Homo sapiens: one gene and its partner. The protein of the gene in region 2 purifies or fractionates together with the protein of the main gene of each other region. This does not show direct contact. Each region holds a gene or a part of one and is shown on either strand. Other genes may lie near its edges.

Region 1 (7,365 bases), on a different chromosome or scaffold from region 2:
AAAGTTTGAGAAATAGTGAACTACTTCATCTCCATAAAGTAGGAAGGGACGCCACCTGCTTTAAAAGAACATTTGAGATTGGGATTGGAAACTTTGAAGGGGGTAGGGAAGGTCTGGGACTGCCAATAGGAAGCCTTCTCTCAAATAGCAGAGATAGATGATAGGGATGAACGTCCTGACCAAGGCTAGAAGGTGTCAGTATGCACACCCAGTAATCCTGTCTTGCCCCTAAACTTCTCCTGCAATACCTAGAATAGGACAGAAGACAGTGGGCATTTGAGGTCATCTATACCTGGATAGAAAGTTTAAGGAAAAGAGGGGTCTAGGAGGCCACGTTGAAGTGACTGGCCAGGAAGGGACCGAAATCTTGATAGAGGAAATGAATAGGCTCAGTAATGTCAGAGAATGGGAGAAGTGGAATGAGGAGGCTTAACTAAGCCTATGGGGACGGAGAATCTCCATGTCTGAGATCTCAGTGCTGACAAAATCCTAAATTACATCAAAGTCCAAGATCTGGCTCTATTTCATATTTCCCTGTGGAATTTATGTTACTGAATAGACAAACTTGTATAAAAACAATTTCTATATGGTATAAAAACCCAGACAAAAGTTGCAGTTTTCTACATTCAAAAATATTTTTAATGTTTTTATTTTTATCTGTTTGTGAGAATTTGTAAGATTATTTTGTTTTGTTTTTCATATGAGATGGGGTCTCACTGTGTTGCCCAGTCCAGTCTTGAACTCCTGGCCTCAAGTGATCCTCCTGCCTCAGTCTCCCGAGTAGCTGGAATTACAGGTGCATGCCCCCACACTTGGATAATTTCTGTACTTTTTATGTGTTGGTGTAACATTGTCTTCGTCTTTTCTTGGAAAGGGCTATATGTTTATTGTTACTGTCTTTAAAATTGTGGTAAAATATGCATAACATAAAAATTAACTATTTTAACCATTTTTAAGTGTACAGTTCAGGTATACTTTTTTAGTGCCAAAAATGTCATTCTTCTATAAAATAACAAATATACTGTGATGGGGGAGGGGGTTGTTCTTACTAGAAAAATTAAGAAGTCGTTACTTATTTTGAGTCCCTAACTTGGTTTCGAAATATAACACGGGACTAAGAAATTCAGGAATCAAACAACTACTGCCCTAAAGGAGAGTTGAGATTTACAGGGTTAGGATGGTCAGGGGTGGAAAGTGGTAAGAACAAGCCAGTAGAAAGAGGAAGGTGCAGGGCATTTTTAGGAGTGTGCAGACCAGACTTGCTAAAAACAAAGTGCGCTTGAAAAGGAACAGTTAGAATTAAGTTTTGGTCCATTTTAAAATATTTAATACCTAATAATGTTTGGTTCATAGCAGAAACTCAATAAATATTTGTCAATTGAGTGTAGTGAAAGCTTGAGTGAGATTCAGAAGAGCCAGAAAATAAAGTTTAAATTTCATTTTATAGACCAGAGGTTCCCAAGAGATGTACCAAGAATGGGCAGCCAACGTGCTAAGCTATCGATCACCTTTCAAAGGAGTCAGGCAGAAGCCAGGGCATCTGGTCAACTCTAGGCCAGGTATGTTCTAGTATGCTGTACAAGTACAACTGTCTATAGATGTCATTGGTGGAAGACAATAGGAAGCAATGGGGAACCACTAAAGATAATTGAGCAGTGGAGATATAAGATGGCAGCAATATTTCCAGGAAGACTATTGCTGTGGTTTTAATGTTCATGTCCCCTACAAAATTCATATATTGAAATCCTAACCCTCAATGTGATGGTATTAGGAGGTAGAGCCTTTGGGGAGTAATTTGATCATAGGGCAGAGCCCTCATGAATGGGATTAGTGCCCTCATAAAACAGGCCCCAGAGAGGTAATTTGTCCCTTCTACCAAACAGTACACAGTGAGAAGGCACCATCTGTGAGAAAGTAGCCCTTCACCAAACACCACATCTGCTGGCACCTTGATCTTAGACTTGCCTCCAGAAGTCTGAGAAATAAATTTCTGTTGTTTATAAACTACCCAGCTTACAGTATTTTGTTATAGCAGCCCAAACAGACTAAGACATCTATTAACCTCGTGATAAAGCAAGAGCTGGATCCCAGGCTCAAAGCTGGAATCACTGGGACTCCCAAGGTATATATTATAGACATTTGAAAATTACTTCCCCAAATTTACTCTCCCTAACCCCACTTTTTAATAATACCGTAAAACGTTCCACAAAATGGCCTAGGTGAAATTGATTATACTCTCACCCCCATGGGTGAGCGCTGATTGGCTTAAAACAACTAGCACCTTTTTCCCCAGGACCCACAGACATTGGTTCAGAAATGGGCGCATAATCCAGTCAGGGATTTTTTTTTTTATGAGAACTCCTAAGAAAAAGATTCCTGTACTTCTCTCTGAAGTTGAGCCAGAAAGCATGTACCCCTAAGGGCTGTTGGCAGCCATCTTTGGACAAAAACCAGAGAGCCTGAATGAGAACAGAGGAGGTGCAGAGGAGAAATAGTGAAAGCAAAACTAGATCCAGGTGTCAGCATTTAAAATCCTTGATGTCTTAGCCCCGGACTCTCCAGTTACTACTTAAATTCCTGTTTCTGCTTCAGCTAGCTTGGGTCTTGTTTTCTTTTACTTGTAACTGAGGTTAAAGTGATCCTCAGAATAAGAGGGGAAAAAGTGGACCCTTGTGGTAATCTAGCACTCTGGGTAGACAGTAGCTGTTCAAGGAAAAGAGAAGAGGGGTGCAGGTGGCTACACAGAAGCGATTAGCCATCAAGGGACGAGGGTGGCATTGGGATGAAAAAGGAAGGGCTGGCTCTGAGCTTCACCATGAAAGAAGTGCACATGAGAATGGTTTCTGTCGGGCCCTCACTTTGGTTAATTCTACTGCTTTCTCCTCAGGGATGATGAAGGCCCCCAGCTCATCCCCAGGGAAATGATGCAACCAGGTAGCTGGATCAGAAATGAAAAAGTCAGGAAAAGGGAAAGGTTGCTTGCGCAGTTACTAGGGATACGAAAAGGAGGCTAAAAAACGGCAGGGGGTGGCCTGGAGGGAATGTGAAACATTTTTGTGTGTTTTACACACACCGAAAAAAAAAGAGGACATGGACAGAAACCTAGAGAATAGGAGGACAGCATAGTATAGTTACTAAGAATAAGCTAAGAGTTGGTTCCCCGGGACCAAACAGATACCATTTCCAAAACCCACGAATTACTTACCGGCTGTCTCAATTCACCTAAGCTTCCCTTTCTTGTCTGTAAATGAGCATGAAAGTGCCACCTGTATAAAATAACTCAGGCTCCCAAAATGTAACATAGGGAAGCTCCTAGCAGCGTGTCTGGGAGGAATAAGCATTATCTGTATTTATCGTATCAAATTAAGATAGAGGAACACAGGAGGACAGTAGAGGATGAAAATAAAACACTACTTAGATCCTGACCCTCCTCAGTGGCAAGTAGTGAGCATTCACTTCGTACAGAAGTAGCACTAAGGCAAATTAAAAGAAAGGTTCACATTTCCTCTAAAAGAAATGGTTTTTGAGTCATGCCAATACCACTTACTCAATGTCCTCTGTACTATACTATTCTCTGACAGAGCCACTTATTAAATGTGTGAACTGTGCTGACAACACTTGACAACTTTCAACATGAGGGAACAGCAGGATCACTTAACAGAACAAAATCGTAAAATAATGTCAAAGCTTGATTTCAGGTGGTGCGGTGTAGCACTGCTCTTCACGAAATCAGGACTCCCCCGACCAGGCAGGGCCGACTAGGTTAGAGTGTCCTGCCCTCACTCACCTGGCAGGGCTTGGGATGAGCTGGACGTGACTGCCACAGGCATTTCTGTTCAACCTTGAAGCCTTCGCTACAGGAGACCGCCTGGCAGTCGGGCTGGGAAGCAAATCTGAGAAACAAAGAGAGACCAGGCGGAAAGCCCTTGGGACCAGGAAGGAGAGATGAGATTCTGGTTTGGCAGTGGCACCTGGTACCCGCTATTAATAAATAATAGGACTGTCTGACATTTATAAGGCACTTTATCGGTAATAACAGTGTCATCTCCATAAGCCATTCTATTAGTGGTAACAAATAATAGCCCCACGCCTGCAATATCTCCTTTAATATTCCCAACGTCCGCTAAGCGCGTCTCATCACCATTTAAAGAAACCGTGGCTCCTAGAGGTAAAGTACTTCGGTCACAACGCGAGGAGGTCCAGACTTGACCCCAGACCTCCAGACTCGAGCTGGGAAGTGGCCGAGGCTCCTGGTGAGCCGCAGGGCAGCCTGCCCAGCCCCGGGAGGACCGCGTGGGAGGGCCGGGAGAGCAGGTGGCTGCCCCCCACAAGGGGGCGGGCTCAGCCGGCCAGTCCTGCCCGGAACCCCCGGCAACGCGCATACGACTACACCTGCTCCGGAGCCCGCGGCGGTACCTGCAGCGGAGGAGCTCTGTCTTCCCCTTCATCTCACGCGAGCCCGGCGTCCCGCCGCGTGCGCCCCGGCGCAGCCCGCCAGTCCGCCCGGAGCCCGCCCAGTCGCCGCGCTGCACGCCCGGGGTGAACCCTCTGCCCTCGCTGGGACAGAGGGCCCCGCAGCCGTCATGCTTTCCGCCATCTACACAGTCCTGGCGGGACTGCTGTTCCTGCCGCTCCTGGTGAACCTCTGCTGCCCATACTTCTTCCAGGACATAGGCTACTTCTTGAAGGTGGCCGCCGTGGGCCGGAGGGTGCGCAGCTACGGGAAGCGGCGGCCGGCGCGCACCATCCTGCGGGCGTTCCTGGAGAAAGCGCGCCAGACGCCACACAAGCCTTTTCTGCTCTTCCGCGACGAGACTCTCACCTACGCGCAGGTGGACCGGCGCAGCAATCAAGTGGCCCGGGCGCTGCACGACCACCTCGGCCTGCGCCAGGGAGACTGCGTGGCGCTCCTTATGGGTAACGAGCCGGCCTACGTGTGGCTGTGGCTGGGGCTGGTGAAGCTGGGCTGTGCCATGGCGTGCCTCAATTACAACATCCGCGCGAAGTCCCTGCTGCACTGCTTCCAGTGCTGCGGGGCGAAGGTGCTGCTGGTGTCGCCAGGTGAGCCCCGAGGATCGCCCTGCCCTGGCACCAGGGCTTCTCGGCGCCTTGACTGACGAGCCACAGCGTGGCATAAGGGGTTCGCAGAGGGAGGTTCAGATCGGAACTGTAGGTATAGAAAAAGGTTGGCAGTGTTTCCTTGAATCGCAAATAATGATCTTTTAGGACCACCTGTTGTGGAAGCTGATAATGTGCTAGGTTCTGTGTTAAGCACTCTACAGGCAGTGTGGTTTTTAATCCTCACAATGGGTAGGCTTTGTTATAGGACTTTTATAGATGAGACCACTGAGGTCCTGAGAGGTGAAGCCTCATGCCCAGCCATCTATCTCCAAATTCCAAGCTCTTAATCAATACTTATAACATCTGCATTAAAATGCAGAGGATCTTGAGTGCGAACTCTAGTGGATCCAGAGGGGCTCTTCTCACCTCTGCTGCTTGACTGGCTGTGTGATCATGGGAAAGTCACTTCTCCTCTCTGTCCCTTGGTTTGCTCCTCTCTAATGAGGCAGGCTTCAATGTTGCTTCCAGCTCTCAACTGCTGTTAGCATCCTGTCCCCTCCCTGCAGAACAAAGGTGACCCCACCTGATCCCCAGGGAGAAGATACTGGGGATCTGCTACAGGACCGTTGTGAGCCCCCACTGCATCTATCACAATAGTGACCCTTTCAGTTCTGTGGTTAGCTCCTGCCACATTTCAGCCAGACTTGAAACAGTAACTTAAGTGATGACAAGGTCAGGAAGTGACAGAGAACCTGTTACTCACAGGGCTGATGGCTTTCCCCTCCCAGAGAGCTTGTCTCTGCACTTGAATAAGGACCAAGGGTTCCTTCTCTCAGTCAGTAAGAAGAGGCCTACACAGGAGTGGGCTGAAAGACCTGGGTGACAGGGTAGGGGTCGAGGGAGCCGAGGAGCCTCAGCTTTCTAGAATGCATTTCTGTGCTAAGCCCTATAGTAGATGCTTTTATTACCCCGGGAGATAACATATCACTATCCCCACCACCACCACCACCATTATACAGTTGAGAAAACTGAGGCTTAAAATTCCAACCTAGCTCTATCCAACTTCGAAGCCATGCTCTTTCCTACATCTTTTTTTTTTTTTTTTTTGACAGTCTCGTTCTGTTGCCCAGGCTGGAGTGCAGTGGCGCTATTTCAGTTCACTGTAACCTCTGCCTCCCAGGCTCAAGCGATCCTCCCAGCTCAGCCTCTCAAGTAGCTGGGACCACAGGCATGCACCACCATGCCCAGCTAATTTTTTGTTATTTTTGGTAGAAACAGGGTTTCACCATGTTGCCCAGGCTGGTCTCAAACTCCTGAGATCAAGCGATCCACCCACCTTGGCCTCGCAAAGTGCTGGGATTACAGGTGTGAGCCACCACACCCAGCCTCTTTCCTACATCTTATTGTTTTCCTCTGCATGGATGTAAACTGTTAAGTGTGCTGGAAGGGATGAAGTGTCCACTTGCTCTACCCCTTCATTTCATAGCTGGGGAAACTGAGGCAAGCTAAGCGGGTTACAGAAAGATGAAAGGTTAATTCACTTGTGAGAAACCAGGAATCTTACACACCTGCTTCATGTGGCATGAAATAAATAATCCAAAAAATATAGGCTTTGTATAAAAGTTTAAAAGCAGAAAGCCAAATTTTAGGCTGGGCGCAGTGGCTCAAGCCTGTAATCCCAGCACTTTGGGAGGCCGAGGCAGGTGGATCACTTGAGGTTAGGAGTTCAAGACTAGCCTGGCCAACATAGCAAAAACCCCGTCTCGACTAAAAAAAAAAAAATTAGCTGGGCATGGTGGCGCGTGCCTGTAATCCCAACTACCTGGGAGGCTGAGGCAGGAGAATCACCTGAACCCAGGAGGCAGAGGTTTCAGTGAGCCGAGATCATGCCACTGCACTCCAGCCTGGGGGACAGAGTGAGACTCCATCTCAAAAAACAGAATAAAAAAAAGACAAGTTTAAAGGTGGCTAAATTATTTGGAAGAGATGGTCCTTTCAAGAAAATTCCCATTAATTTCTAGCTGCCTGAGAAAAGCGATAACTTCACTACTTTGTAACTAGAAGACTCTCCTAAGCCTATTACTTTACCAGCTTGCTTGGAGGGAAATTATTAACACAGTGATCTTTGTACCACTTCAGGAAGCATTTAAATTCTGTTTATCACTTTAGTATCCCAGGTCCCCTGAGAGGGAGGTCACAGGGTTTGGAGTTTTGTTGACAAAGAAGTTCAGGATTAAATGACCATAATACAGTTTGATTCTGCAATAAAGTCAGAATTACAACCAGATACCCTCTTCCCACCCA
Region 2 (2,807 bases):
AAGTTCAAAATTAATGCCAACATCCATGAACGACAAATAAAACTCAAAATTTAAAATCCAGACAGGATCCACCTTGCTTTGCAGGCCTCCCCTCCCTGGCTGGCTCTGGTCTGGGCCCTGCACACGTTGGGGAGGCCCAAAGACAACCCAGAGGAGCCTGGCATAACCAGCAGGGCTCAGCATGGATGGGACTGGGGTAAAATCAGGGCTTCTGAGCATGACTCCAAGAGTGTGAGGTCCCCAGAGAAAGTGGCTTAGGGAGGTAGTGGGATGTGGAGAGTGAAACACTCTTCAGAGAAAAATTAGCTAAGCAACAAGAGCTAATACTTTGTTCTGCAGAGAGAGAGAAGTCCAACTCTTGGGCTCGAGATGATGAGAAATAAAGTATTTCCCAGAAACCTCGGACCCTCACTCAACTCCTTCGAGGCTTGTCTCTGTCTGCAACCTACAGCCTGACTGTGCAGCCTGGAAAGCTTCTTTTTTTATAGAAGAACAAGAAAGAATTTTAGTGATTTGCAGTTAGTTTATTGAAATGGAAATGAATTTGAGGTTTCAACAGTTGTCTAGCAGTTTCCACATAAAAAGACAACACAAGAAAGAAAAGTGGTTTCTAGCAATCAACAGATGAGTTCTGGCCATAGTCTGTAGCCCTCTGAGCCAAACGCCTTGGGTAAAGTTAATTACTCTTCATATTACACCAAATGCTGTCGTACACTGTATGCTGGAAAACAAAAGCAGGTCACTTAGGTTTGCAAATTTCACTTATTAAATCAAATATTAAAACTTGTCTTCTTGTTTTCTTGCATTTGTCCACAAACAGCTAACTCTCAGGAGGATTTGCAGTGGAAGCAAAGCCAGCATCCCCTCTCCATTTATTCTGTTATCTAGGAGACACTTCATAATGCCAAACAGGGGCCAGGGTTGTAGGATCTCTTCCCTACCAGTGATCCATGTAATACTTTTTTTCTCCAAAAATTCTATCCTTTGAAATAACTTATCCAATAAATATGCTGCATATACTATTTGTTGAAGACCTGATCATTTGGACTGTTTCTGATACCACTTTTACAACACAGAATTATTAAAAAATCTCAGCTCAGATACAAGAATGTGATGGTTTTGAGTTGCTGCACAGGCATAAAAGGTAGAAATGTTGTAACAGTCTGAGACTCTTCACCATTACCTTTGAGGCCTATGAAATATTGGAGCTGGGCTGGGTGGGATGGCTCATGCCTGTAATCCCAGCACTTTGGGAAGCCAAGGAGGGCAGATTGCTTGACCCCAGGAGTTTAAACCAGCCTGGACAATATGACAAAATGCCATCTCTACAAAAAAAAAAATATATATATATATATGTGTATATATGTGTATATATGTATATATGTGTATATATGTGTATATATGTATATATGTGTGTATATATGTATATATGTGCATATATGTGTACATATATGCATGTATATGTGCACATATATGTGTACATATGTGTACATATGTGTGTACATATGTGTGTATATATGTGTGTGTGTATATATATGTATATATATGCCAGGTGTGTTAGTGTGCACCTGTAGTCGCAGCTACTCAGGAGGCTGAAGCGGGAGGATCACTTGAGCCCAGGAGATGGAGGCTGCAGTGAGCTGTGATTGTACCACTGCATTCCAGCCTGGGCAAAAGAGCAAGACTCTGTCTCAAAAACAAAAACAAAGACAAAAAAACGGAAACAAGAAACACTGGAGTTTTACAATATGAATGATTAATCTGAGGGGTTTTTTTGGTTTGTTTAGGATTTTTGTTTGTTTGTTTGTTTTTGAGATGGAGTCTTACTCTGTTGCCCAGGCTGGAGTGCGGTGGCACTATCTTGGCTCACTGCAATCTCTGCCTCCTGGCTTCAAGTAATTCTTCTGCCTCAGCCACCCAAGCAGCTGGAATTACAGGTGTGCGCCACCACGCCTAGCTAATTTTTGTATTTTTAGTAGAGACAGGGTTTCAGCATGTTGGCCAGGCTGGTCTTGAACTCCTGACCTCAAGTGATCTGCCCGCCTTGGCCTCCTAAAGTGCTGGGATTACAGGTATGAGGGATGCACCTGGCTAATCTGAGTTTTTAAAGAAAAAAATGATTCAACCATCCCAAATTGCAGTTAATATTTATTTTTATCCTTGAGCATTTGATATATCTTTACATTTTTTATTATGGAATGTTTTAAATAAAATTTTAGGGTATTAAATAAATTCTTAAAAAAAAAATGTAATCCCAGCACTTTGGGAGGCTGAAGCGGGCAGATCACCTGAGGTCAGGAGTTTGAGACCAGCCTGGCCAACATGGTGAAACCCCATCTCTACTTAAAATACAAAAATTAGCAGGCTGTGGTGTTGTGTGCCAGTAATTCCAGCTACTCCGAAGACTGAGGCAGGAGAATCACTTGAACTCAGGAGCCGGAGATTGTAGTGAGCCGAGATCGTGCCATTGCACTCCAGCCTGAGCAACAAGAGCTAAACTCCATCTCGAAAAAAACGAAAAACAAAAAACAAAACTCGTAACCAACACATCTTTATAAACAGACAGAAATACTCCTTGTTATAACCACTGACTTTTGTTTTAAACAATTCTAGCACTCGTGCTGTTTCATACCCATAATCTGCACTTCCCACTTCATGAGGCACTTAATTAAGTGGTGCATGACTTCCAGTCATGTATGCTAACAAATCTTGGTTGCTTGGACTTGCATTTTAAATTCTTTATTTTAGGCCGGGAGCAGTGGCTCACACCTGTAATCCCAGCACTTTGGGAGGCCGAGGCGGGCAGA

Evidence for each region.
Region 1: the proteins of SCGB2A1 (region 2) and SLC27A2 purify together in Homo sapiens (co-immunoprecipitation; 2 studies listed by BioGRID and IntAct, with this or other methods). This does not show direct contact.

What each region holds. Positions count from the first base shown.
Region 1 is NC_000015.10:50,177,845-50,185,209, forward strand, and holds the start of SLC27A2 (long-chain fatty acid transport protein 2), read left to right. Parts: upstream 1-4,351; 5' UTR 4,352-4,583; coding exon 4,584-5,061; intron 5,062-7,365. UniProt on the Homo sapiens protein: Mediates the import of long-chain fatty acids (LCFA) into the cell by facilitating their transport across cell membranes, playing an important role in hepatic fatty acid uptake.
Region 2 is NC_000011.10:62,211,640-62,214,446, reverse strand, and holds the end of SCGB2A1 (mammaglobin-B precursor), read right to left. Parts: intron 722-2,807; coding exon 677-721; 3' UTR 504-676; downstream 1-503. UniProt on the Homo sapiens protein: May bind androgens and other steroids, may also bind estramustine, a chemotherapeutic agent used for prostate cancer. May be under transcriptional regulation of steroid hormones.